Linked DNA regions of Homo sapiens. The protein of the gene in region 4 purifies or fractionates together with the protein of the main gene of each other region. This does not show direct contact. Each region holds a gene or a part of one and is shown on either strand. Other genes may lie near its edges.

Region 1 (3,500 bases), on a different chromosome or scaffold from region 4:
AGGGTTCTGGTGGTACTGGTGAGAGGGGTAGGCCCATAAACCTACTCTGTGGGATAAAGACAGCTGTTGAACACCGCTCCATGCCTTGTGCTCGGCGGGAGGAGGGGCCAGTTCCCTGGAAGGAATGTAGGCACGCAAACTCAAAAGGGAGGACCTTCTTGGAAACAGACCCCAAAATGCAGCCACTCACACAGATAAAATCAAGCTGAGAGTCTTCGCATTGCAGATGTGCGGGTGTTTCTTGACTTTGGGAGGTGGCTTTTTTCTTTCTACTTTGATGTTTGTCTACCTTGGGATATCAAATCCATAATCCTTTTAAAGACTCAGAGTTTAGTTTTCCTAAGGGCATTGTCTGTAGCTCATCAGTAATTACCCTACTCACCTCACTCTTAGGAACTGTCCTCACAGTGAGGTATTTAACTTGCTGGAGAGCTTGCAGCCTGATTCCGGAAGAATCCCAGGGTGGGGTGATCAGGTGGTTTGCTTGTCTCCATCCTTTACAGGCTGTAGAAATGGAGGAGAGCCCTCAGACTCCTTTGAGGGTTGTCTCCATTAGTCCTAGATGGAGCATTTCTGTCATCTGTGTGTCTCTTTTTATTTTTAGTAGAGATGGGGTTTCACCATATTGGCCAGGCTGGTCTCAAACTCCTGACCTCAAGTGATCCGCCCACCTCAGCCTCTCAAAGTGCTGGGATTACAGGCGTGAGCCACCACGCCCGGCCAGGGTATCTCTTTTTCAAGTGTCATTCTCCATCCTTCTTGTTCTTGTTCGTTCTGCAAGTATATGATGAATTCAAGTTCCTTAGGTCTTGATGTAGTATATCAGAGAATAACATGTAGAAAGCAATGAGTATTTTGTCCTTGGCGTTGTAACTTAAGTTCCAGTTTCTTTCTATGAAGTTCTTTTTTTTGTTGTTGTTGTTTTTAGAGACGGAGTCTCACTCTGTCGTCCAGGCTGGAGTGCAGTGGTGCAATCTCGACTCACTATAAGCTCCGCCTCCCAGGTTCATGCCATTCTCCTGCCTCAGCCTCCGGAGTAGCTGGGACTGCAGGCGCCCGCCACCACGCCCAGCTAATTTTTTGTATTTTTAGTAAAGACGGGATTTCACTGTGTTAGCCAGGATGGTTTCAATCTCCTGACCTCATGATCTGCCCTCCTTGGCCTCCCAAAGTGGTGGGATTACAGGCGTGAGCCACCGCGCCCAGCCGAAGTTCTTTATTATAAATGGTCATGACATTAGGGTCACTCATAGGATGTGACCACACAGTTCTTGGAGTGGTCCAGCCATTGCCAGAAGGAGGTACTATGATTAAGAAATTGTAGCAATTTTATTTTTAAAAAGAAAATATGGCAATAAACTAACTTGCCAGTTGATTAAGGGCTACCAGAAATATGAGGAAACCCTGTGATTTTGCTCCTCAAAATTCAGTTTGGGGGACTATAGTGATGATTTCAGCCTGGGGGCTGTGCAACCTCTCTGCAAAATCATCATCTTTCATCCTATTGGAGGCCTGGAATTTTCACCTTCAAAGTGAACTCCCCATAATAGTATGAAATTTGGAGCCCTTGCTGCCTCTAGAGAGCTGTAAAAGTCCCCAGAATCTCCTGGAACTCTCAGAAAATTCCCAAGTGGAAGAATAAGATTGTCTTCCTCAGTAAGCTACATGGCTCTGCCAGCATGGGTCTACCAGCCTCTCACTGCCTCACAAGGGCTTCTCCACGTGTCCACTCCAGTTCCCCTTGCTTAGCTTCCATCCCAGGATCACATTCGGGCCTCCCTACCAGATTCCTCCCCTGGCTGTGTACACCCAGGCCTGGCCACGGCTTGAAAACTATTTTTGCATTCCACTCACAGGAGACTGCTGAGCCGTTGGTTGCAGACTGCAGTGTGCCTTTGTCTCTGTCACCCTGACCCACTGCAGGGAAATGAGCAGAGCTGTGGCGGAACTTCTCTAGAACACCGGGGTAGAGGCCCCACTTACAGGGGTCTGCATTCCCTGGCAACCTCAAACAGATAGCCTCCCCATGACGGCAGAGGCTCAGTTGGAAAATGAAGAATTTCTTGCTAGCCATGTCTCCCCACCCTATTCTAGATGTGGAGTAGCCAGTTTTCTGGTGCATAATTTCCCCGTTTCTGGAGCCCTTTCTCTTGTCTGTCATTCACCCTGAGGTTCATGTCCTCCCTCCTTTGCCTGCCTCTGTATCCTTCCACATCTTTCCTCTTTGAAGCAGCCTGGTTCCCATGGAAACAGCAATGTCATTGGAAGAGTTGGAGCCTGGGAATGTCCCCAAGGGCAGGAGAAAGTCACTCAACAAAAAGGCTAAAACCCACCCAGAGGGTTGATTCTCACTGTGCTTGCATGACAGTTCTCATAGTACTAGGATAGGGAGCTTTAGGGGCAGAACTTGGGGGGGCTGCAGAGATAGAAGAATCTACATCCATCTTTCTATTTGTCCTTGTCTGTCACTTCCTTATTTTTAGGTGTCTTCTCAGCCACGTGAACTAGGTGGGACTGCAAAGCAGCAAGATAGGTTTGCATGTGCAGGGCAGGTCCTGGGACTTTGTAGCTGTAGCTCTTATTCCTCTTGTTTTTCATCTTTCTTTCACCCAGAGCCCAGGGCAGGGAGAGGCCTGAGAGGATCCTGTAGGTGTCTTCATTGAGGCTGCAGAGCAGAAGACCAGGATTCCCTTCCCTCCTTGGTCACTTAGCAGTCAGAGAACTTTGACCAGTTCACTCAGTTTCTCTACACCTCGGTTACCTCATTTATATCACAGACCTCAGAGCTCCCTGGCCCACTTCATAGAATGGTTGTAAAGGCAGGGGCGATCACACCAGCTCTGAGGTCTGTGCAGATTCGGAGCATTGCAGTTCCTCTAGATGGCCTTCGGAACAGGCTGTGGAGATAGGTGTTGGGGTCAGGGCCCAGGCCCTTACTGTGGCCGTGGCTGCCTGCTCCATCGCCACGGTTTCTCAATGTCGCTGCTGCAGGTGCAACACGCAGGACTACATCTGGCACAAGGGGATGCGCTGCGAGTCCATCATCACCGACTTCCAGGTGATGTGCGTGGCCGTGGGCTCGGCTGCCCTCGTCCTGCTCCTGCTCTTCATGATGACGGTGTTCTTTGCCAAGAAGCTCTACCTGCTCAAGACGGAGAATACCAAGCTGCGTAGGACCAAGTGAGTCTGTGTCACTCACCCATCCACCCAGGTCAGGGTGTGGGAGGCCCCCCGACGCTGCTGCACCCCTCCAACTGATCCAGGGACTTTGTCGTGAGGGTTTCTGGCACCTGTGCTCCATTCCCAGCTGTTTTGTCTGTGCTAAAAATTCACTCAGGCTCATCTGTTCCTACACAAAATGTGCTGGAGCTGCAGCAGAGGTGAAGCCCCTGTGGCACACTGCCACTGTCCAGCAGCTTTCCCAAAACCCTGCACTAGGCATCTGAGAGCCTGCTGTGAAAAAGGCAGCCAGCATGTAGCTACTCCTCCTCTAGTCCCCA
Region 2 (4,290 bases), on a different chromosome or scaffold from region 4:
AAATTCATCCTTTGTGACTTACAGTTCTATGGATTTTGACAAATATATAGTGAACCTGAAGTCTACCACCACAATCAAAATACAGACTAGTTCCATCACCACCAAAAATTCTCCATGATGCTTGTTTGCAGTTAATCTCTCTCCCAATCCCTATCCTCTGGTAACTACAATCTGTTCTCTGTCTATTGTTTTGCCTTTCCTGAATGTCATATAAATGAAATCATACAGTATGCAGACTTACGGGTTTGCCTTCTTTCACTTAGCAAAATGTATATTTATTAAAACATCTGTCTGCATGAGTTTTGCTAAAACTCATATTTTTTCCATGTACAGAAAAAAGGACTGGGGGATGGGGGCAGGGGGAGGGATAGCATTAGGAGAAATACCTAATGTAGATGACAGGTTGATGGGTGCAGCAAACCACCATGGCACATATATACCTATGTAACAAACCTGCACATTCTGCACATGTATCCCAGAACTTAAAGTATAATAATAATAATAAAAAAAGAAGCAGCATATGTCACAAAAAAAGGACCATACCAATTGTCATCTCAAAGGCTAACAATGACATTTGAAGTTTTAAAACCACATTATATAGTTGTATTTCAGAGATGTGACCTTTAGTATATGTAAATGTCCCACTTTATAATTTTACAATCTAAGTTGGAAAATCTAGGTTCCTGAAGGGGGAAAAAAACTCTTGTCTTTATTGTATCTGGCTCTTGGCTCTTACCATGATTTCCTTTGATATCCAGCCACTTGGTTTTTTCCATGACTCTTGTCTTCTTCAGAATACCCTGGTAGGTTTGCCATTCTACCTCATGCTGCCTGGATCCCAACTGTTCCTTTGTTTTGGCATCTGTCAGGTCTCCTGTAGGTTTACACAAGAATTGAATCACAATGCAAAATAAACTACTGGGGGTTCCATTTTTTTTAGATATGTACACTGAAGGAACAAGGATACTTAAAGCACTCAACGTGTATAAGCATAACTGCTCACGAGACCACCAATGTCCAAATCGAGCCATCTAAACTAACAAGATTTTCTCAGCAAGGACTTTGTTTCTTATAGGTTAGCAAATGCCTGTTCAATCTCCTGTGATATTCGAAATGGGTTGTTAAAAAAATCTTTAAAGAGAACAGTACAAAATGCATCAATAGACTCTGATAAAATGAAAATGATTTATAAGAAATTCCAGTACTCTGAGTGGCTGCCTAATATCTATGGCAACCATATTTTCCAAACCACAAAATCAGAATATGTGATTTGACCAAGTATTATTTTTACAGCAAGAAGCAATGTGGCAGGTGGAATTGGACAACAAAATACCAAAATTTATAGAGAACTAAACAGAAAACTTTTTATGGAGGCTCATCCATTAAATCAGAACTGATACCCTTTCATGTCAGCAGAGATGCTTCAATAAGGTGGATGAGTGATGAATTCCCCAGTAAGCAAGATAGATAGATGCTCCTTTAGCTTCTTCTCCCCATTACAGTTTGAAAGCAAATAAAGTGTTTGAAGAGTCTAGAAAACTTAAGTCATAAAACTATCAAAGGATGAAGAAAAAGTGCCCTGGGTCACCGGAAGCCTCAAACAACTGAAAATATAAGATTAATAATGTAAAGAAAATAGAAAAGTTAGCAAAAGAAGAGAACTTCTGATTCGTGGTTACAGGCTTTTCCCTAATTCTCACAACCAGAACTGTAACAACAACAAGAACAAAAACCAGATACAAATATATCAGACAACAGACTGACATGAGAACCAGGAGCCTTGCTTCTACTGCTTTGACAAAACCTTGCTACGTCAAATCATTTTGCCTGGATCTTGACTCATTCAGTTATCCATAGGCAAAGGGGTTAGAATGTCCAATCTCTTCCACCTCACAGAGCTCACCTGGGGCTGTGGCTATACTGCTCCCAACGTCCCCAAAATGAAAAGCCACAGCCCTGGCTAGAGTTCTACCATGCGGACCACAGACCACCACCACAGCACGGCAAGCCTCCCTACCTGTTGCTAGGACGAGAGCTGGTTGAATGATGTCAATAGTTTCAGAACAGAATTTCTCTAAGTCTACCGCTCTGCCTGGATCTCGAAACCTGCTCAGGTGAATGTCGGATATCTGCCGAAAACAGGTATTGAACAGAGAGATCTGAGCCAGGAAGAGGCAGCATGGGGAGGGGCGGCTCAGCGGCTCTCTCGGGCAGAAGGAAAAGGCAAAGAGGCAATGCATAACGAACCCCCCAGGTAAGGACAGGGCCAGCACTAGACAGAGCCTCGAGTTACAATCTGACTGAGGTCCCCAGCCTGGAGCGTGGGGCCCAACACCCGCAAGGGTCCCACCGCACGGTGCCCGATCTGCACCTGCCTCCCGGCCCGGCTTCCCGCCGCGTCACCTGCAGGCCCCAGAAGATGTTGCTGTCTCCGGGCCCTGGCGCAGGGTGCGGCCTCCTGGGGGGCGCGGGGCGCGGCAGCGGCGAGGGCTGGCCCGCCAGGCCGTAGTGCTCCAAGAGCATGGCCACCAGCGCTGCGGCCGCCAACCCCGCGACCACCCTGAGAGCCAGCACTGCAGCCATGCCGCCCGCCCGCCGGGGCGCGGCCCTCGCTGATCCCGCGCAGGACCGCGCGGCGCTCCCGGGAGCCGCTTTGCCTGCACTTCCGGACTCTATTGTCGCAGGGCCAGAGCTGGATGCGGGGCCGGCGCCGGATGCGGGGCTGGAGCCAGACACTGGGCCTAGGGTGCTGCGCCCGTCAGCCGCCGCCCAGCACCTGCCCCTCTCTGGCCGCGCAAGTGACTGGGCTCGTTTTGCATAAGTAATACGATCACAGAAAAGAGAACCGAAACTCTGAACACCAATGACGGTGGCCGAGTGGTGGCGGGGAAGGAGACCGGGACCAGTGGCCGGGAGGCGGGGGCTAGAGTCCTGGCTCCGCCTTGGTCAGTCACTCCTGACCTCAGTGGGTCGATCTCCTTACCTGTAAAACGGAGTTAATAACACCTTCCGTGCGCACTTTGCAGGGTTGTTGTATCAAAGTGAGAATGTATGAGAACGCCTTTTAAATTGTCTCACAAATGTGTCAGGTGGCTTCCTCTGGCCCCTTCTGATTATTAACGTACCTCCATAGGTTTTCTTTTCTTTCTCTTCCCCTTCCCTCTACCATTCCCCTTTCCTTCACTTCTCAGACAGGGTCTCTATCCCCCAGGCAGGAATGCAGTGGCGCGATCATGGCTCACTGCAGCCTCGACCTCCCTGACCTTAAGTAGCTGGAATTACAGGCTCGCACCACCACGCCCAGCTAATTTTTTAAATATAGTTTTTGTAGAGACTGGGATCTGTCTGTGTTGCCCGGGCTGGCCTCGGAACTCCTAGGTTCAAGCGATCCTCCCGCCTCCGCCTCCCAAAGTGCTGGGACTACAGGCTGAGCCACCGCGCCCGGCAGCATAGGTTTTCTATAGATGTAATTCCTATGTTTTGTGAAAGTTATTTTTCCCTTAAACTGATTTCACATGCACCTGAGTAAATAATATTGCAACACGGTAGTATACCATTCATTTAATAAGTATTAAATACTTCCTATGGGCCAGACCCAGGAGAATTAGATTCAGCCCTACCTTAATTTATCTAACAACTCCCTTATTGTTGATTTTTTAATTGTTTATTATATATTGCTGTTCTGAGTAATTTTTTTCACGTCTTCCCTTTATTGAAAAAAATTTTAGAAAATGGCAGTTAATAAAAGGCACAAACAAATCAACAGGGATATACTAGTGGAAAACACAATATAAAACTAACATGTCATTGGCTTCTTTAATTGGTTAAGAGCACAAAATGTAACAGGCAAAAGGTCTGTTTCAAACAAATTAAAAAGCTATGTGTTTTTTAAATTCTCCCCAAATCAGATATATACACACCCACAAAAATAGTGTGTGAAGGAAAACTGTCATACACAAGAAGTCGTATCCTGAATTCTTCAAGGAAATACATGTGGAAATAGGAATTAACAGAGTCAGCAACAGATTAATTTTTTATTAATTGAGTCTTAAAATGCTACATAGCCCAAAGCTATACTATATAAAGTACTACTAGGTACAAAGGAAAGTCTGTACAGCTTTTAGCAAAACTGCTTTCCCAGAAAAGCAAATTAAAATAATGCAATCAGCAGACCCAGGAGACTACAGCTAGACATCAGAGCTACAACTTCTCATATCTCTCTCAGAAAATCCTATTTATCCAGAACAGACTAAAATTTCAGGACAAAACAGGGATTTTTAAACTTTTTTT
Region 3 (3,500 bases), on a different chromosome or scaffold from region 4:
CCCTTTGCTTGGAATGAATTTCCTTTCTTCTCTTGTTTGTTGGGTAATCACCTATTTATGTTTCAAAATTTACTTAAAACATTTTCTGTGTGATGTCATTCTTCATAGTTTCACCATCTCTCTCTTCCTTATTCAACACACTGCATTGTGATTAGTTATAAATCTTCCCTAACAGATCAGAATATGTTTTGATGTAGGGACCAAGTCATAGTTATTATTGTATTCCTGGAGCCTAGACTATTTGTTGAGTAAGTGGTTTTAAAACAGCTTCTAAAACATTTAAAAAATTACTTCTGTATTTTTTTCCTTCACTTCCATTTTTTTTTCAGATTTAACAAACATTTATTAAATGCCAGACATGTTGGGGACTTCCACCAATGTGGCAAAGGTGAGTTTTTATGAAGTGCTCACACTGTGGTAATTGCTATGGAGTTACAATAAAGTATAAAACAGTCTTACAATTGTTTTCAGATTTAGCTGGCAGGAGATTTTAAAAAAACTCACACATATGTAGCAATTCTAAAATAGTTAAGGGCCAAACTGGGAGGTACTAACTTGATAAACTCAGTAGAACTTTAGATACAAAGGCTGATGAAGGCTGGAGGGCCTGGGGAAGAGTACATTCGGTAGAGGAAGGACTTGAGGGATTTGTTTGTGATTTTGAGAGGCAGGTGGGACAGAGGAAACAGAACCGTTTAGGGAAAGTGGCAAGTTATGATAGGAAAAAGACTAGAAGAAAAAATGAGTGTGGCATGTGCACAAGACTGAGGACGACATAACTGGATTGGGGGTCAGTGATACAAAGTCTTGTGGAGACTTAACCTAGTATGTATGAGTTCATTCATGATATAGGCCATAAAAAGGTATAGATCACATTAGAAAAGATTGTTTTATCATCCTACATTTTCCTATTTTGTTTTTCCTCAGACTCCCTCATGCCACTTAGCTGCCTCAGAAAAACTGACAGTATTGGAGGATGCCAAAAAAAGAAAAAAAGAAACTGGTCAAGAGACCCTTTGTGATTTTGTCTGCTATTGGGCAGCAACTCATGAGAACTGGCCAATAAGACTCTACGGTTATATTAGAAGTGGCTCTGGAGACCTTAAAGTTATGCTATTCTCATTTATTTTAGTGCAGAAAGGACTCAAACAATCTGACATCAGTGGGAAGAGCGTATACAATGAAAATCGAGTGTCTTTGGACACTCTCTGTACTCAGGTCTTTTGAGCTTTTCAAATAACAAGGTACCAAGGCTCCTAAAAAGCCAAAAAATGTGGATTCATACTGGCTGCTCTACTCAGAGATTTGGGCTTACAGATCTAATAGCTCCATTAAATGCATCGTCATTTTGTTGGAGGAGACAGTATAGAGCGGTAGTTAAGAACACAGACTGTGGAGACAGGCTGCTAGATGTAGAACCCTAGATCTGCCACTTGCTAGCTGTGTAGCCTTAGATAAAGTACTTAAGTTCTCTGTGCCCCAGTTTCTGCATTTGTAGCATCTCTTAATTTTTACACAACATGTAAAAAATACATCAGTTTTGTGGCAGGTAAGGAAGTTTGTACTTTTTGGTTTGTTTTTAAGACAGAGTCTTGCTCTGTCACCCAGGTTGGAGTGCAGTGGTGCGATCTCGGCTCACTGCAACCTCCACCTCCCGGGCTGAAGCTATTTTCATGTCTCAGTCACCCAAGTTGCTGGGACTACAGGTGCATGCCACCACGCCTGGCTAATTTTTGTATTTTTAGTAGAGATGGGGTTTCGCTATGTTGGCCAGGCTGGTCTTGAACTCCTGGCCTCATGTGATCTCCCTGCCTTGGTCTCCCAAAGTGTCAGGATTACAGGCGTGAACCACTGTGCCCAGCCTGGAAGTTTGTACCGTGGAGCTAATTCTATTCACCTTTTTATTTTTTCCCCACGAGCAGATTCAAGTTGCCCTGGATATATGCTTGCTGGAGCTAATTCTAACTAGACAAGTTGCTACAAAAGACAAGCAAATATCAACTGCATGAGTGTTAGCTCATCCTTGTCTCAACAATGTCTCACTCTGTCGCCCAGGCTGGAGTGCAGTGGCGCAACCTCGGCTCACTGCAAGCTCCGCCTCCCGGGTTCACGCCATTCTCCTGCCTCAGCCTCCCGAGTAGCTGGGACTATAGGTGCCCGCCACCACACCTGGCTAATTTTTTGTATTTTTAGTAGAGATGGGGTTTCACCTTGTTAGCCAGAATGGTCTCGATCTCCTGACCTTGTGATCCACCTGCCTCGGCCTCCCAAAGTGCTGGGATTACGGGCATGAGCCACTGTGCCTGGCCGAAACCTACTGTTTCTAAAAGGTCTGTTAGTAACCTCTAGTCTTTGGCAACTAAGAATTTTAAGAAATATTCAATAATTCTTTAACTTGACAGCTTAAGAAACCAGGTTGTGAAATAGTGGTTTTTAAGAGGGTTCTTATGTGGCTGATACTTTAGGTGCCATTAAATAAAATATTAGTACACATAAAATAATCTAAAATCCCAAAAGATAAGCTTTAGTGTTATGAAAACAAAATTTAGTTAACATATATTAAGAAAATGCTTAGTATTAAGTAAACCAAGAAAAAAAAGAAAAGAAATGGAAAGAAAAACCAGCATACTTCCTTCCAAAAGGAAGGTGATTTTGTCTTTTAGGTAAACCACTTAACATCAAAAGTTTTTTCAAAACAGAAAAAGTATCTATTATGAAAAATATATGTATATTACTGAATTAGCTGTATTTCATCTTGAAATTCTCAGAAAAAGATAAGGTAGATGTTGCAGCTTCCTTGATTTTAGAAGAAATACTACATTAGCAAACACTGAACCAAATAGGAAAGGGTATGAGGCTTATGGCTCAGGGTGCAGGCACTAAAAAAGTAGCGGTAACACAGCTAATAGGAATTCCTGCAAAAGTTTTGAAAAAAAGACTCCTCAACCAATTTGCTCTACAAAAGAAAAAACTTTCTTTTCTACTGTAGGCACTGGTATATGACTTTTGTTGCTGACCCTTCAGTAGGGCTCACAAATATATAAAATAGAACATAAATAAAAATTATATACAGTTAAAAGTATAATAGTCTAATACCAAACACATTTCCAGAGGTACCAAAGAAATCAGGTTACATGTGAAAACAGTATTTGAGTTATGTTGTAGTATCACTACATTTAATGATGTAAGGAGCTTCAGGACTATGAAGAAAATTTAAAATTATTATGTTATTCTTCACTAAGAAATAAACAGTACCTGTTGCAGTAGTCAACCACAGACTCCCTGGTTGTAAATAAAGCTTCCTCTCCTTTCTTGGCCTTTGCCCACTTTGAATCCAAAAGACAGTCCACTGCTTTTGAAGCTAAAGAAGAAATTCATTATTTTAAATTTAGCATACATGGGGATTTATGTCTATCTAAATAATATTTTATAAAGTAAAATTTCAACACTCTGGCAACAAAAAAGAAAACCAAACTCAACAGAAAACTAAATCTAACATG
Region 4 (3,500 bases):
AGCAGAGATGGTTCTGAAGCTGATTGCCATGGACCCCTACGAGTATTTCCAGCAGGGTTGGAATATCTTCGACAGCATCATCGTCACCCTCAGCCTGGTAGAGCTAGGCCTGGCCAACGTACAGGGACTGTCTGTGCTACGCTCCTTCCGTCTGGTACACAAAAGCCCCAGGGCCAGGGGCTGGGATGGGGGTGGGGTGAGGAGACTAAGGAGGGTGGGCACAGGGATGGGAGGAGAAACCCCAGGAAGCTAGAGGGCTGAAAACGAGGCCTCCTCTGCCTTGTGCACACCTGTTACCTCTCAGAACCTTTCTTACCTGTAAAACAGAGAAAAGGAGAGCCCTGTCTTCTTTCATAGGGCTGCTGGGGGGACCCAAGTGACAGAGGCCAACACTGGGTTTGATTCCTTAATGACCTTGAGCAGCAGTGGAGCAGGAACTCCAGCCCCATACTGCAGACCTGAAAGCCGGGGCTCTGGAAGTTCATTAGGAGTAGGATTGGGACCTCTGAATTTCTGTCTTTTCACCACCCCATAAGGAGCACTATTATTCTTTTTAAAACTTTATCAGCTGGACGCGGTGGCTCACGCCTGTAATCCCAACACTTTGGGAGGCCAAGGCGCGTGGATCACCTGAGGTCAGGAGTTCAAGACCAGCCTGGCCAACATGGTGAAACTCCGTCTCTACGAAAAACACAAAAATTAGCTGGGCTTGGTGGCGCACGCCTGTAATCCCAGCTACTTGGGAGGCTGAGGCAGGAGAATCACTTGAACCCGGAAGGCTGAGGTTGCAGTGAGCCGAGATCGCACCACTGCACTCCAGCCTGGGTAACAGATTGAGACTCTGTCTCAAAAAAAACAACAACAACAAACTTTATCAAGGGATCTTTTCATGCATGCACAAAAGTATAGAGAAAGTATAATGAACCTCCACGTACCTATCACCCAGCTTCAACAACTATCAACATTCTACAATTCCTGTTGCATCTGTCCCCCAATTTTTATTGTGAAAGCAAATCCCAACATATAATTTCACTTGTAAATACTTTAGTCTGTATTTTTTTTTTTAGACAGGGTTTCTCTGTCACCCAGGCTGGAGTGCAGTGGTACGATCACTGCTCACTGCAGCCTTGACCTCCCCAGACTCAGGTGATTCTCCCACCTCAGCCTCCTGCATAGGTGGGACCACCATGCCTAGCTAATTTTTGTAATTTTTGTAGGTCAGGGTTTCGCCATGTTGCCCAGGCTGGTCTCCAACTCCTAGGCTCAAGTGATGCACCTTCTTCGGCCTCCCAAAGTGCTGGGATTACAGGTGTGAGCCAACTGCTCCCAGCCATAGTCTGTATCTTTAACAGATAATGACGAATGACATTTTTTCTCTTTTCTTTTCTTTTTCTTTTTCTTTTTTTTTTTTTTTTTAGTGGAGTTTTGTTCTGTAGCCCAGGCTGGAGTGCAGTGGTGCAATCTCTGCTCACTACAAGCTCCACCTCCCTGGTTGAAGCGATTCTCCTTCCTAAGCCTCCTGAGTAACTGAGATTACAGGCACTCGCCACCATGCCCGACTAATTTTTTGTATTTTTAGTAGAGACAGGATTTTACCATGTCAGCCAAGCTGGTTTCCAGCTCCTGAGCTTAAGTGATCCACCCGCCTCGGCTTCCCAAAGTGCTGGGATTACAGGCGTGAGCCACCGCGCCTGGCCTGGACTTGTTTTCTTTTTAACACATGAAGGGCCTGAGGTGGTAGAATGAGTGTTCCCATTTAGCAGAAGGGCACACTGAGGACTCAGATGGTGTGGGGGGCTGGAGATTCAAGCTACTCGACACTGTTCTTTCTCCTAAGGCTGGGGCTGCCTTGGGTGGTGGTCCCTGGGCCTCATTCACCCTTGCCCTCCCTGCTTGGCAGCTGCGGGTCTTCAAGCTGGCCAAGTCGTGGCCAACGCTGAACATGCTCATCAAGATCATTGGCAATTCAGTGGGGGCGCTGGGTAACCTGACGCTGGTGCTGGCTATCATCGTGTTCATCTTCGCCGTGGTGGGCATGCAGCTGTTTGGCAAGAGCTACAAGGAGTGCGTGTGCAAGATTGCCTTGGACTGCAACCTGCCGCGCTGGCACATGCATGATTTCTTCCACTCCTTCCTCATCGTCTTCCGCATCCTGTGCGGGGAGTGGATCGAGACCATGTGGGACTGCATGGAGGTGGCCGGCCAAGCCATGTGCCTCACCGTCTTCCTCATGGTCATGGTCATCGGCAATCTTGTGGTGAGTGAGGCTGGCTGGGTGGCCCCTGCCCTCACCCGGGAAGCGTACAAGATGTACCTGATATTTGACTGTTTTCTATCTCCCCAACACATCCTCTCCAAAATGGCAATTTTATGTGGTTTAACCCCGTAGTTCTCAAATTTTAACCTGTGTAAGAATCACTTAGGAGTTACTTAAAACATAGATCCCCGGCCCCACCCCCAGAGTGTCTGATTCAGCAGCTCTGGGCCTAGGCCTGGGGACCTGCATTTCTGACAAGCTCCGAGGTGATGCTGATCAGTGGATGCTGATGGTGGTTCTGGGACCATGCTATGAGTAGCGCTGTTGGAACCTAGTGTTTTGAGTAAAGCAACATGATAATGAGTCAGACAGACCCACATTCCAGTCCCAGCTCCTTTGCCATCATCTGTGTGACCTTGAGCTAACTGCTGCTCTCTAGTCAAGCTGGGTTCTCTAACCCTCACATAGAAGAAAAACAACAGGGAGTTCATGAGGTCACTGCAAAGATGATGCCATAGTGTGTACAAAGGCACAGTTTTGTGGGGGAACCTGGGCCTCCTGGCCTTCTCCCACCCTCTTGACCTCCTCTGCTCCAGGGCCTATGGTCCAGGCGCCGAAAAAGAGAATCAGGCTGGATGTGGTGGCTCATGCCCATAGTCCCAGCACTTTAGGAGGCCAAGGCCAGGAGTTCAAGACCAGCCTGGGCAACATAGCAAGACACTCTTATCTCTACAAAAAATGGAAAAATGAAAAAAATTAGCTAGGCATGGTGGCACACACCAAACCCAGCTATTTGGGAGGCTGAGGCAGGAAGATGGTTTGAGCCGTGGACTTCAAAGCTGTAGTGAGCTGTGATCCTGCCACTGCACTCCAGCATGGGGGGGCAGAGCAAGACCCCATCTCTAGAAAACAAAAAAGAAACAGGTGCAGATATTGGGAAAATGCAGAGATGGCATAAACTGCATCTCTTCTGCCGCTTACTGTGGTTCAGGGCTTGGCATGAGGGGCTGGTGCAGAGGAAGGGGCCAGGAGGTGAGAGCCAGGGTATAGGGCCATGGTCCAGCTGGCCAGCATTTCTGCGGCTAGGGCCTCTGGAGGTGACCCTGACTTCTCCCCTTCTTGGGGTGGCAGTGGAGGTCACTCCTGCCAGAGCCCTGCAGTGCTGTGCCCAGCTGCCCCCTGCAGTGGCTGGTGCTGCCCTGGGCAACAGGGACTGGGAAGACGCCTGTCCCCATGTTCCCCA
Region 5 (3,500 bases), on a different chromosome or scaffold from region 4:
AAATACATATACAAATACACAGATGCATACACACACACATTCACCTAGAAGACCCAAAATTCAGATTCTAAGGATTAGGATGAATAAAAAAAGAAAAAGATCCAAAAGAATATGCTGGCATATTATGTCTCAATTTTTGCATATAGTGGCATAAAACAACACAAATTTATTATCTCACAAAGGCCAGCAGAGTATGGCTGGATGCTCTGCTCAGTATCCCTAAGCTAAAATCAAGGCATCGGCCAGAGCTACAGTTTTCATCAGGGGCTTGTAGTCCTCTTACAATATCATTGGCTACTAGCAGAATTCATTTCCTCCTTGCTTCATGCCTGCAGTGGTGCAGAAAATCCTCTGATCTCTCTTTCTACACAGGCTAGAGAAAGCACTTTGGTTTTAAGGGCTCACGTGATTAGACCAGGCCCACAGGGTAATCTTTCCAATCTGTCTAATGTGCTATACAAAGTATCATAATCATGGGAATGGCATCTCATCATATTCATAGGTTCTGAGGATTAGAGTGAGGACTGTTGGGGAGGGGAGGCATTTTCAGAACTCTGACTACTACAGCCACAAAAAGTTTTTAAAAATCAATTAAAACAGCTTTCTTACCTGTTAATAACGAACCACGCAACAGTAAGCATTCCTGCTAGCCATGTTCCACTCATAAGCCAACTTGTAACAAATAAAGCAGTAACATATATTCCTTGCAATCCAAAAACAATGCCAATATAGAAATACACTGGCTCAATAATCTCCTATGTGGAAAAAACAGAAAGAGAACAAGACAATAGGATGGCATTAAATAATTTGAGGATTCATGAATACATGAGAAAATAAATATTAGGGTCCAACGAAAAATACATACATTGCTACCAGTGGCTTGATATAAAATGCTAGCAATAAGTTCCGGATACAGAGACATTTGCTGCACTGCATTTATAGTCTTCAGAGATACAGTTTTGTTATTGTGTGTCAGTTCGTAAACACCTAAAGACAGAAAGATTTTTCTCCAGATTATTTATTCTGCTTCACAGTAATTAAACATGTCATTAGTCCTTAAATATTTAATATTGTTATCAAGAAAGATCCCAAATAGAATACTCCATGCTGCATTTTCCATTTTTTAAAAATTTAGCACAATAAAGAGAAATATCTATATCCTGAGACAAATCCCCACATTGAAAGGTCCCAATATAGCAGAATAGAAGTTATCAGAGGCTGGGAAGAGTAGAGGGGAGGGGAGGATAGGGAGAGACTGGTTAATGGATACAAAATTACAGCTAGATAGGAAAAATAACTTCTAGTATTCTGTAGTACTATAGAATGAATATGGTTAACAACAATTTAGTGTATATTTTCAAAAAGCTGAGAGTTGATTTGGGATATTCATAACACAAGGAAGTGATATATGTCCAATGTGATGGATATACTAACTACCCTGATTTGATCATTATACATTGTGTATAATATCAAAATATCACTCCCCATAAATATGCACAATTACTACATGTAAAGTAAAAATAAAAGGAGGAGGAAAGGTTCTAAAATAGAAGAACAAAGTTTTATTTAAGAAAAATATTGATATTACAGCCGGGCGCAGTGGTTCACACCTGTAATCCCAGCACTTTGGGAGGCTGAGGCGGGCAGATCATGAGGTCAAGAGTTCGAGACCAGCCTGGCCAACATGGTGAAACCCCGTCTCTACTAAGTATACAAAAATTAGCCGGGCATGGTGGTGCATGCCTTTAATCCCAGCTACTAGGGAGGCTGAGGCAGGAGAATTGCCTGAACCGGGAGGCAGAGGTTACAGTGAGCCAAGATCGCACCACTGCACTCCAGCCTGGGTGACAGAGCAAGACTCCGTCTCGGAAAAAAAAAAAAAAGAAAAGAAAAGAAAAAGGAAAATACTGTTATTAAAAATATAACTGTGATTATCATACCTCTTTCAAATGAAGGTGCCTTTAACATATCTTTATAATAGGAGTAATAAATGGCACTGTCACCCTGAAACGTGATTTCCCGTTCAAGCTCCTAAAAGAAAATGAAATTATTATTTAAAATTTAATTTTTTTTTTTTTTTTGAGACAGAGTCTCGCTCTGTCGCCCAGGCTGGAGTGCAGTGGCGCGATCTCGGCTCACTGCAACCTCCGCCTCGTAGGTTCATGCCATTTCTCCTGCCTCAGCCTCCCGAGTAGCTGGGACTACAGGCGCCTGCCACCACGCCCGGCTATTTTTTTGTATTTTTAGTAGAGATGGGGTTTCACCGTGTTAGTCAGGATGGTTTCGATCTCCTGACCTCATGATCCACCCACCTCAGCCTCCCAAAGTGCTGGGATTACAGGCGTAAGCCACCACGCCCAGACTTAAATTTAAGTTTTTTGTTTTTAAGAGACAGAGTCTCTCTCTGTTACCCAGGCTGGTGTGCAGAGGCACAATCATGGCTCACTGAAACCTCAAATGATCCTCCCACCTCAGCTACCCAGTAGCTAGGACTACAGGCACATGGCCAGCATTTTTGTTTTGTTTTGTTTTATTTTTTTGTAAAGAAGGGGGTCTCACAATGTTGCCCAGGCTGGATTATTTGAAGTTTTTTGTTTTGTTTTGTTTTGTTTTGTTTGAAACAGAGTCTTGCTCTGTTGCCCAGGCTAGAGTGCAGTGGCGCCATCTCTGCTCACTGCAACCTCCGCCTCTTGGGTTCACGCCATTCACCTGCCTCAGCCTCCCAAGTAGCTGGGACTACAGGCACCCGCCACCACGCCCGGCTAATTTTTTGTGTTTTTAGTAGAGACGGGGTTTCACCGTGTTAGCCAGGATGGTCTCAATCTCCTGACCTCGTGATCCGCCCACCTCGGCCTCCTAAAGTGTTGGGATTACAGGCGTTGAGTCACCGCCTGGCCCTTACTTGGTTTTAAATTTCAGCCTCTGGCCCAGCGTGTTGGCTCACGCCTGTAATCCCAGCACTTTCGGAGGCCGAAGTGGGTGGATCACTTAAGGTCAGGAGTTTGAGACCAGCCTGGCCAACATGGTGAAACCCTGTCTCTACTAAAAATAGAAAAATTAGGCCTGGTGGTGTGTGTCTGTAATCCCAGCTACTCGGGAGGTGGGAGAATCGCTTGAACCCAGGCGGCACAGGTTGCAGTGAGGCGAGATCACACCACTGCACTGCAGCCTTGGGACATGGAGTGAGATTCTGTCTCAAAAAATAATAACAATAAAATAAATTTCAGCCTCAATCTTCTGTCTCCCTCCTCACCTTCCAAATTAACATATTAATAATATTTATCCTTTTTATTCAAAGACATGTTTGAATTTTCTTTAATTACTAGTGGCCCCATTAATGAGGAACTTAACTTTTTAGTAATCTGGCAATAATTTTAATGAAACATTAAGGTTTAAAATGAATTGTAAATCACAAGTCATCACTTGTTATATATAACATATATCCGGAAAATCTAGAAGGAAAACCACAAGACATGCCCTAAGAATAGCAAGAATAGTGA
Region 6 (3,500 bases), on a different chromosome or scaffold from region 4:
AGCGCTTACTACATGACAGGTACTGTGCCAAGGGCATTTAAAGCATTATATCACTTTTCACAGCAGTTCCATGAGGTAAATCTATCATCCCCATTTTACAGATGAGGCAACTGAGGCTAAAGATAAAGTACTTTGCCCAAGATCATACAGCCAGGAAAGAGTGGAGCCAAGATTTGGACCCAGGCTGGGCAGTTGCCATGCACATGCCCCTTACCTCTCTACTATGTTGCCTTCCCCCGAAAAGAGTGGTTACCTGTCTCTACCACCCCCAGCCTGGAAATGTGACCGGCACCCATGTTGGCTCTCACATCCTCATATTCTCTCCTAATGCAACTTCTTGCTTGGGAAATAGATATTGCTGAAGCAGGGTTGATTCAGGAAGGGCTTCTGTGATGGGCAGGGCGGAGGACTAGGCTGGGGACGGGTGCTGGGAGATTGCCGCCTGTTTCTGTCTTGCTGACAACATTTTTCCCCTCTCCGCACTGGACAGAGCCTCTTCTGTTCCTCTCCATCTGACTTCCTGCTTCCTCCTCTGGCTTTGGAGTGCCTGGCTCCTCTGACTACCTCTTCTTAAGCCCCCATCTCTTCTCTCTCACTCCGCTTGGTAAGAGGAACAAGGGTTCTGGGGTCTGGGCAAAGGGAAACATCTCCTGGCTCTAGCAAATGGGCCCCGTGAGAGTTGGGTGCACCCCTGAAAAGGTAAATCCACCCCGGGGAGCTCTACCAGAGGCATTACCACTCCCTAGCAGGGCATCTGGAAGTGGCAGTTATTTTCTTAAAACTTAAATGATAGTAAGCATACAGAATAGCGCACAGATCATGAGCTTGGTTTCCACAAGGTGAATACACTCATGTAACCAGTATCAGATCAGGAGATAGAATATTCCCAACATCCCATGTAACCAGTACCAGATCAAGAAGTAAAACATTCCCAGCAGCCCAGAGGTTCCTCTCCAGGCTCCCTTCTAGTCACCGTCCCTAGAGTAGAGGGCTGGGGCATTTTTGTTTGTCACAATCACTTCTGGGTTCTACTGGCATTGAGTTGGCAGAGTCTAGTGTCTGCAATGCATGGGACAGTCCTATGGTATAAAGAACTGTCCTGCCCAGATGCACTGTTGAGAAACACTGTACCTGCCAGGTCTGACCAGTGATGGGCTGCAGTGTGGCAAAGGCCTGGAGGACAGGGGTGAAGCTGCGTCTGTGGGTCAGAGTGAGGAGGGGCCTTCACTGCAATGCTGTTGCCACCCCCAGGCCTCCGGAATGCCCCCCGCTGCTGGGCAGTGATCCAGCCCCTGCTGTGTGCCGTATACATGCCCAAGTGTGAGAATGACCGGGTGGAGCTGCCCAGCCGTACCCTCTGCCAGGCCACCCGAGGCCCCTGTGCCATCGTGGAGAGGGAGCGGGGCTGGCCTGACTTCCTGCGCTGCACTCCTGACCGCTTCCCTGAAGGCTGCACGGTGAGTGCTCTGTGAGACAAGGTCCAGGCTCTCTGGGTTGGGCAGGACCGGGTATAGGGCAGGGTCCAGTGGGGAGCAGGGGAGCCCAGAGCTTTGTCTCCTGGAGACCCTGAGCCTACAGCCATGGGGTCAACAGGACACAAACTCAAACTGCAGCTCACTGGCTGGATCCGTCTATTAGGGATTCTCTATTTATTTATCAATGATCACATGTTCAGCAAAATGTTTTGAGCACTGGCTGTTGGGTGTTGTGGTGTTACGGGCATCACGGATGACAGGAGCCTATCAGGAAGTTTCTCATGTATGTTGGGAGTTAAGGCGCGAGCGTGTGAAACAGCTAGAGCCACCAAGACAGGGGACGTGAGCTAGTTCTGGGTGGTGCAGGAGAGGTCTTCAATGAAAATAATAACAGTAATAATGATGGTAATAATACTAATTAGTCCTGTTTACTATATGCCAAATGCCATTATAATAAGCTCATGCCTGTAATCCCAGCACTTTGGGAGGTCGAGGTGGGCAGATCACCTGAAGTCAGGAGTTCCAGACCAGCCTGGCCAACGTGGCAAAACCCTGTCTCTACTAAAAATACAAACATAAGCCTGATGTCATGGTGTGCGCCTGTAGTCCCAGCTACTCGGGAGGCTGAGACACGAGAATCGCTTGAACCCGGGAGGTGGAAGTTGCAGTGAGCTGAGATCGTGCCACTGAACTCCAGCCTGGGCTACAGAGTGAGACTCTGTCTCAAAATAAATAAATAAATAAATAGGCTGGCCAGACACAGTGGCTCATGCCTGTTATCCCCACCACTTTGGAAGGCTGAGGCGGGTGGATCACTTGATGAGGTCAGAAGTTCAAGACCAGCCTGACCAACATGGTGAAACTCCGTCTCTACTAAAAATACAAAAAATTAGCCAGACATGGTGGTGGGCACCTGTATTCTCAGCTACTTGGGAGGCTGAGGCAGTAGAATCGCTTGAACCCGGGAGGTGGAGGTTGCAGTGAGCCAAGATTGTGCCATTGCACTGCAGCCTGGGCGACAGAGCCAGACTCTGTCTCTCTCTTTCTATATATATAATATATGTTTATTCATTTAACCCTTAAACCATACCATAAGGTAAGTACTACCATCTTAGAAATGGGGAAACTGGCCGGGCGCAGTGGCTCACGCCTGTAATCCCAGCACTTTGGGAGGCCGAGGTGGGTGGATCATGAGGTCAGGAGTTCAAGACCAGCCTGGCCAACCTGGTGAAACCCCGTCTAAAATACAAAATTTAGCCGGGTGTGGTGGTGGGCGCCTGTAGTCCCAGCTACTCGGGAGTCTGAGGCAGGAGAATTGCCCGGGAGGCAGAGGTTGCAGTGAGCTGAGATCACGCCACTGCACTCCAGCCTGGGCGACAGAGCGAGACTGTCTAAAAAAAGAAAGAAAAAAAGAAAGAAAGAAGTGGGGAAACTGAGGTACAGAGAGGCCAAATAATTTGCCAAGCCAGCCCTGGGATTCAGGTCCTGGAAGTGTATCTCCAGCCACCCTGCCATGCTACCTAGATACCTTTCCCTAAACAAGAGGCTCGTCCCTGAGCTGCCTTGACACCGTCTTTTCCCATCCCTGGTGCCAGAATGAGGTGCAGAACATCAAGTTCAACAGTTCAGGCCAGTGCGAAGTGCCCTTGGTTCGGACAGACAACCCCAAGAGCTGGTACGAGGACGTGGAGGGCTGCGGCATCCAGTGCCAGAACCCGCTCTTCACAGAGGCTGAGCACCAGGACATGCACAGCTACATCGCGGCCTTCGGGGCCGTCACGGGCCTCTGCACGCTCTTCACCCTGGTCAGCCGCGGGAGGGCAGGCCCGGGGGGCCCTCAGCCTGGAACGTGGGAAGAGAGCCAGAGGGAAGGGGGGCAAAGAGGTCTTGGTGGGGGTCCCCAGGGAAGGGTCATGATCAGAAGGGTCTGGGGCTCAGTTAAGGGTGTCTGTGTCAGCAGAATAACCCTAACCTCACAGAATGGCCCACTTCTCTCTTCTAGGCCACATTCGTGGCTGACTGGCG
Region 7 (3,500 bases), on a different chromosome or scaffold from region 4:
CCACCAAGGGCAGCGGTGAGGGTGGAGAGGGAAGTGGCTCGGATGGCCCACCCTTCCTGGGGCTGGCTGCTCAGCCAGGCTGGGACTCTGAGAGGGGCCCAGGAAGGCATCTCAGGGAAGGAGCAGGAATCTCTCATGCAGGAGGTGGCGGAGGGTGTGCACTACGTGTCTGAACGCACGTGCACCTTTCCTATCATACAGGCTGAGCAGAGCAGGTCAGGCCCTCACCACGCCCAGCACAGAGAAGAAGATGACAATGGCCAGGCAGGCGTAGGCACTGTAGGCGCTGGCGTTGATGTCCGGGTGCCGCTTCTGGTAGAGCTTCAGCATGCAGAGTCCGGCGATCATGTACATGAACGATGTGTCTAGGATGAGGGACACGGAAGGGAGCTGCAGAAATGGCCACCAAGCCCCAGCAGAGAACTCCTGGCCCCAACAATCCCAGAGGAAGAGAGAGCCCTGGTGCCCCACCACGGCCATGGTGTGAGCTGGTGGCAGGGTGGCACTTGAACTTCAGTTCCTTAGTTGTACCTGCCACACCACACTGCCACCCCACTGGCTGTCACCCAGAGTCTGACATCTCCTGAAAACAGGGACAACTTGGTCTGTGTCTTAGTCTGTGAGCACCCTGAGATCAGGGACTCCCTTTTATTTTTTTGGAGACGGAGTCTCACTCTGTCGCCCAGGCTGGCGTGCAATGGTGGGATCTCGGCTCACTGCAACCTCCGCTTCCTGGGCTCAAGCAATTCTCCTGCCTCAGCCCCCTGAGTAGCTGAGATTACAGGCATGCACCACCACACCCAGCTAATCTTTGCATTTTTAGTAGAGATGGGGTTTCACCATGTTGGCCCGGCTGATCTCAAACTCCCCACCTTGGGCGATCCCCCCGCCTCAGCCTCCCAAAGTGCTAGGATTACAGGCATGAGCCACAGTGCCCAGCCAGGGCCCCCTTCTTTTTTTTTTTTTTGAGACGGAGTCTCGCTCTGTTGCCCAGGCTAGAGCGCAGGGCGTGATCTTGGCTCATTGCAAACTCTGCCTCCCGGATTCATGCCATTCTCCTGCCTCAGCCTCCCGAGCAGCTGGGACTACAGGCGCCTGCCACTGTGCCCGGCTAATTTTTTGTATTTTTAGTAGAGACGGGGTTTCACCATGTTAGCCAGGATGGTCTGGAGCTCCTGACCTCGTGATCCATCTGCCTCGGCCTCCCAAAGTGCTGGGATTACAGGCGTGAGCCACTGCACCCGGCCAGGGACCCCTTCTTAATTATACTGTTTTCTTCACTGCGGCACATGCCTTTACATAGGAATAGCTTGACAGATGAATGAAGCAGCATCTAGGTGCCCATGTTCCATAGGCTAGGATGTGTGCACACCCAGGCACGCCAGCCTTGGAGTTTCCTACAGGGGTGTCTTAGCGATCCCTGTGGGTGACTTGGGGATAGTGAAGGACTCAGGCAGGTCCCTGCTGTAGGTTGAGCCAGAAAAGAAGGACGCCCCACTCACCAAACTGGAAATTGGTATAGTTGGGGCACACATGATAGCAAGCACTGAGCAGCCCCTCCATCATCAGGGCTGTGCCCATGGCGTAGAAAAGCCCAAAGTGTTTGGGGATCCCACATTCCTGTTGGGGAGAGAGAGAAGGGAAGGGAGGGAGGAAGTGAGGCAGGAAGGGAAGAAGGGACCCAAAAGAGGGACCCTAAGAGGAGTGGAAGAGGAAAAGGGGTGGGGTATGTGTCGAGTGTGGGTGTGCAGGGGTGGGCTGGCCTGGGCAGGCTGGCAAGGGAGGGCAGGGCAGGGTGGGGCAGGCTGGGCTGGATAGGGTGGGCCAGACAGAACTGGGGAGGGGAGAGCTGGGGAAGGCAGGGCCAGGCCTGCCCAAAAGGGTGTCCTGGAGCCAAGGCTTGAGGTCTGTGCTGGAGCTGAGGCTGCGGCAGGCAGGCAGGTGCTCCCTTACCAGGGCACAGAGGTCATTGCGCAGCAGGGCCCGGTTGTGGTTGATCTCCCGTTGCAGGATGATGAGCAGGAAAAGCAGCCCCAGCAGGATGTACCCCAGGTTGCTGAGGATGTTGTTGAAGGCGCTAGAAGGGGCAACACAAGGCAGACTGCTTGGGACTCACACCCAGGCCTCTTCCCTAGCCCACGTGGGCATTGCAAAGCCCCAGGCCCTGCCCCATTTCACCCTTGGCCTGGACAAGGGGCCTCCCAGCATGACCCCCACCTGAGATTGCCCAGTGGGTGGGCGCAGAGGAAGTTGTAGTAGCAGATGTCCTGATTCCCTGTGACATTCACCACCTGTAGCAGGAGCAGGGACAGGGAGTGGGTCTGTCGTCACGCCCAACTCAGCCCACGCCCCGCCATCCGGGCCCCTTTGGCAAAAAACAGCAAGTGCCACCACAGCTAGCAGGTGGGAATACACAGCACCGCAGGCACGTGTTCCTTCTGAGAACATGGATGCCATGCAGCACAGTCGCTGTCCCCTCTCATTAGGCGTGGCTGAAAACCCTGAGGCATGACCGTGATGGAAGTTCTTGCCCCACGGGACAGAGAAAAGGGAAGGGAAACTGATGCTTACAAAGCCCCAGGACTTTGGTTTCATAATCCGCACAAGAAACCAGGGAGGGGCTATCTTTAGTGCGGGCTGCTCCCATTTTGCAGATGAAGAAACTGACACTCAGGGTTGGGGGGGTTATGTGATTTGCCCTGGGTCACTCGGCTGGGAAGGCAGAGCTGGGATCTGAACCCAGGTCCTGTGATGGAACACCAGGGCCCCAGGCTGGGAGGCTCTGCACTTTGGGGCGGTGTCCTAGGCTGTCGGAAAGGTGAACCTGCCCTGCCCTCTCACCGTCTGGTAGGTGATCACCAGCTGCACCACAGGAAGGGCATAGAAGACAGCAATGGTGGCAATGTTCCTGCGGAGCAGGAGGGCGGCAGTGAGGTGGGTGGCACCCAAGGCTGCCACACACCCACCAACAGCAGAGCCCCAGACACTCAGCCCACTCACCAGAAGTAGATCTGGTACTTTTTCCGCAGAACACGCTTGTCCTTCCGTGCCAGGTCAGCCACATAGAGGTATTGCTGGGGAGAAGCTGGAATCAGCCCCACTTACTGCTACTTGGGAGAAGCCCCCTCCCCCAGGTTAGAGGTGGACAAGAGGGGCCTCCCTCACACAGGGCCGAATTCAGGGGGGCAGGGTTCAAGGACATCCCACTGCTGCGGCCGCTTAGACCAAGAGGGTTTGGCCAATCAGGCCGGAAGGGGTTGGAGGTCAGGTTAGTTTCCCCGGCATCTGCCCTGCCCCAGCTGAGCCCCTTCCTTCTGCTTCCCTAAATGCCACGTCAGTGGGAACATGCTGGGGCGGGAACGCAGAATGTCCCTTTCTCAGGAAACGCCTGACCAGGCCAGGCCCACGGGTCAGACCTTGGTGCGAATGACATTCTTGTCGGAATCGATGTCGGTCAATGTGTCGTAGTCATCCTCCTCCACAGAGCTCATGGAGTCCAC

The links.
Region 1: the proteins of SCN4A (region 4) and CSPG5 purify together in Homo sapiens (affinity purification with mass spectrometry; one large-scale study listed by BioGRID and IntAct). This does not show direct contact.
Region 2: the proteins of SCN4A (region 4) and TMEM62 purify together in Homo sapiens (affinity purification with mass spectrometry; one large-scale study listed by BioGRID and IntAct). This does not show direct contact.
Region 3: the proteins of SCN4A (region 4) and SEC62 purify together in Homo sapiens (affinity purification with mass spectrometry; one large-scale study listed by BioGRID and IntAct). This does not show direct contact.
Region 5: the proteins of SCN4A (region 4) and DPY19L4 purify together in Homo sapiens (affinity purification with mass spectrometry; one large-scale study listed by BioGRID and IntAct). This does not show direct contact.
Region 6: the proteins of SCN4A (region 4) and SMO purify together in Homo sapiens (affinity purification with mass spectrometry; one large-scale study listed by BioGRID and IntAct). This does not show direct contact.
Region 7: the proteins of SCN4A (region 4) and SIDT2 purify together in Homo sapiens (affinity purification with mass spectrometry; one large-scale study listed by BioGRID and IntAct). This does not show direct contact.

What each region holds. Positions count from the first base shown.
Region 1 is NC_000003.12:47,572,366-47,575,865, reverse strand, and holds part of CSPG5 (chondroitin sulfate proteoglycan 5 isoform 1 precursor), read left to right. Parts: intron 1-2,991; coding exon 2,992-3,180; intron 3,181-3,500. UniProt on the Homo sapiens protein: May function as a growth and differentiation factor involved in neuritogenesis. May induce ERBB3 activation.
Region 2 is NC_000015.10:43,132,096-43,136,385, reverse strand, and holds the start of TMEM62 (transmembrane protein 62), read right to left. Parts: upstream 2,801-4,290; 5' UTR 2,584-2,800; coding exon 2,404-2,583; exon of another isoform or gene 2,372-2,403; intron 2,130-2,371; coding exon 2,018-2,129; intron 875-2,017; coding exon 737-874; intron 1-736.
Region 3 is NC_000003.12:169,976,807-169,980,306, reverse strand, and holds part of SEC62 (translocation protein SEC62), read right to left. Parts: intron 3,362-3,500; coding exon 3,256-3,361; intron 1-3,255. UniProt on the Homo sapiens protein: Mediates post-translational transport of precursor polypeptides across endoplasmic reticulum (ER). Proposed to act as a targeting receptor for small presecretory proteins containing short and apolar signal peptides.
Region 4 is NC_000017.11:63,955,919-63,959,418, reverse strand, and holds part of SCN4A (sodium channel protein type 4 subunit alpha), read left to right. Parts: coding exon 1-154; intron 155-1,900; coding exon 1,901-2,257; intron 2,258-3,500. UniProt on the Homo sapiens protein: Pore-forming subunit of Nav1.4, a voltage-gated sodium (Nav) channel that directly mediates the depolarizing phase of action potentials in excitable membranes.
Region 5 is NC_000008.11:94,736,900-94,740,399, reverse strand, and holds part of DPY19L4 (probable C-mannosyltransferase DPY19L4), read right to left. Parts: intron 2,032-3,500; coding exon 1,941-2,031; intron 988-1,940; coding exon 866-987; intron 756-865; coding exon 610-755; intron 1-609. UniProt on the Homo sapiens protein: Probable C-mannosyltransferase that mediates C-mannosylation of tryptophan residues on target proteins.
Region 6 is NC_000007.14:129,202,133-129,205,632, forward strand, and holds part of SMO (protein smoothened precursor), read left to right. Parts: intron 1-490; exon of another isoform or gene 491-604; intron 605-1,251; coding exon 1,252-1,457; intron 1,458-3,070; coding exon 3,071-3,280; intron 3,281-3,477; coding exon 3,478-3,500. UniProt on the Homo sapiens protein: G protein-coupled receptor which associates with the patched protein (PTCH) to transduce hedgehog protein signaling. Binding of sonic hedgehog (SHH) to its receptor patched prevents inhibition of smoothened (SMO) by patched.
Region 7 is NC_000011.10:117,188,743-117,192,242, reverse strand, and holds part of SIDT2 (SID1 transmembrane family member 2 precursor), read right to left. Parts: coding exon 3,417-3,500; intron 3,075-3,416; coding exon 3,001-3,074; intron 2,909-3,000; coding exon 2,842-2,908; intron 2,292-2,841; coding exon 2,218-2,291; intron 2,078-2,217; coding exon 1,954-2,077; intron 1,621-1,953; coding exon 1,503-1,620; intron 366-1,502; coding exon 229-365; intron 1-228.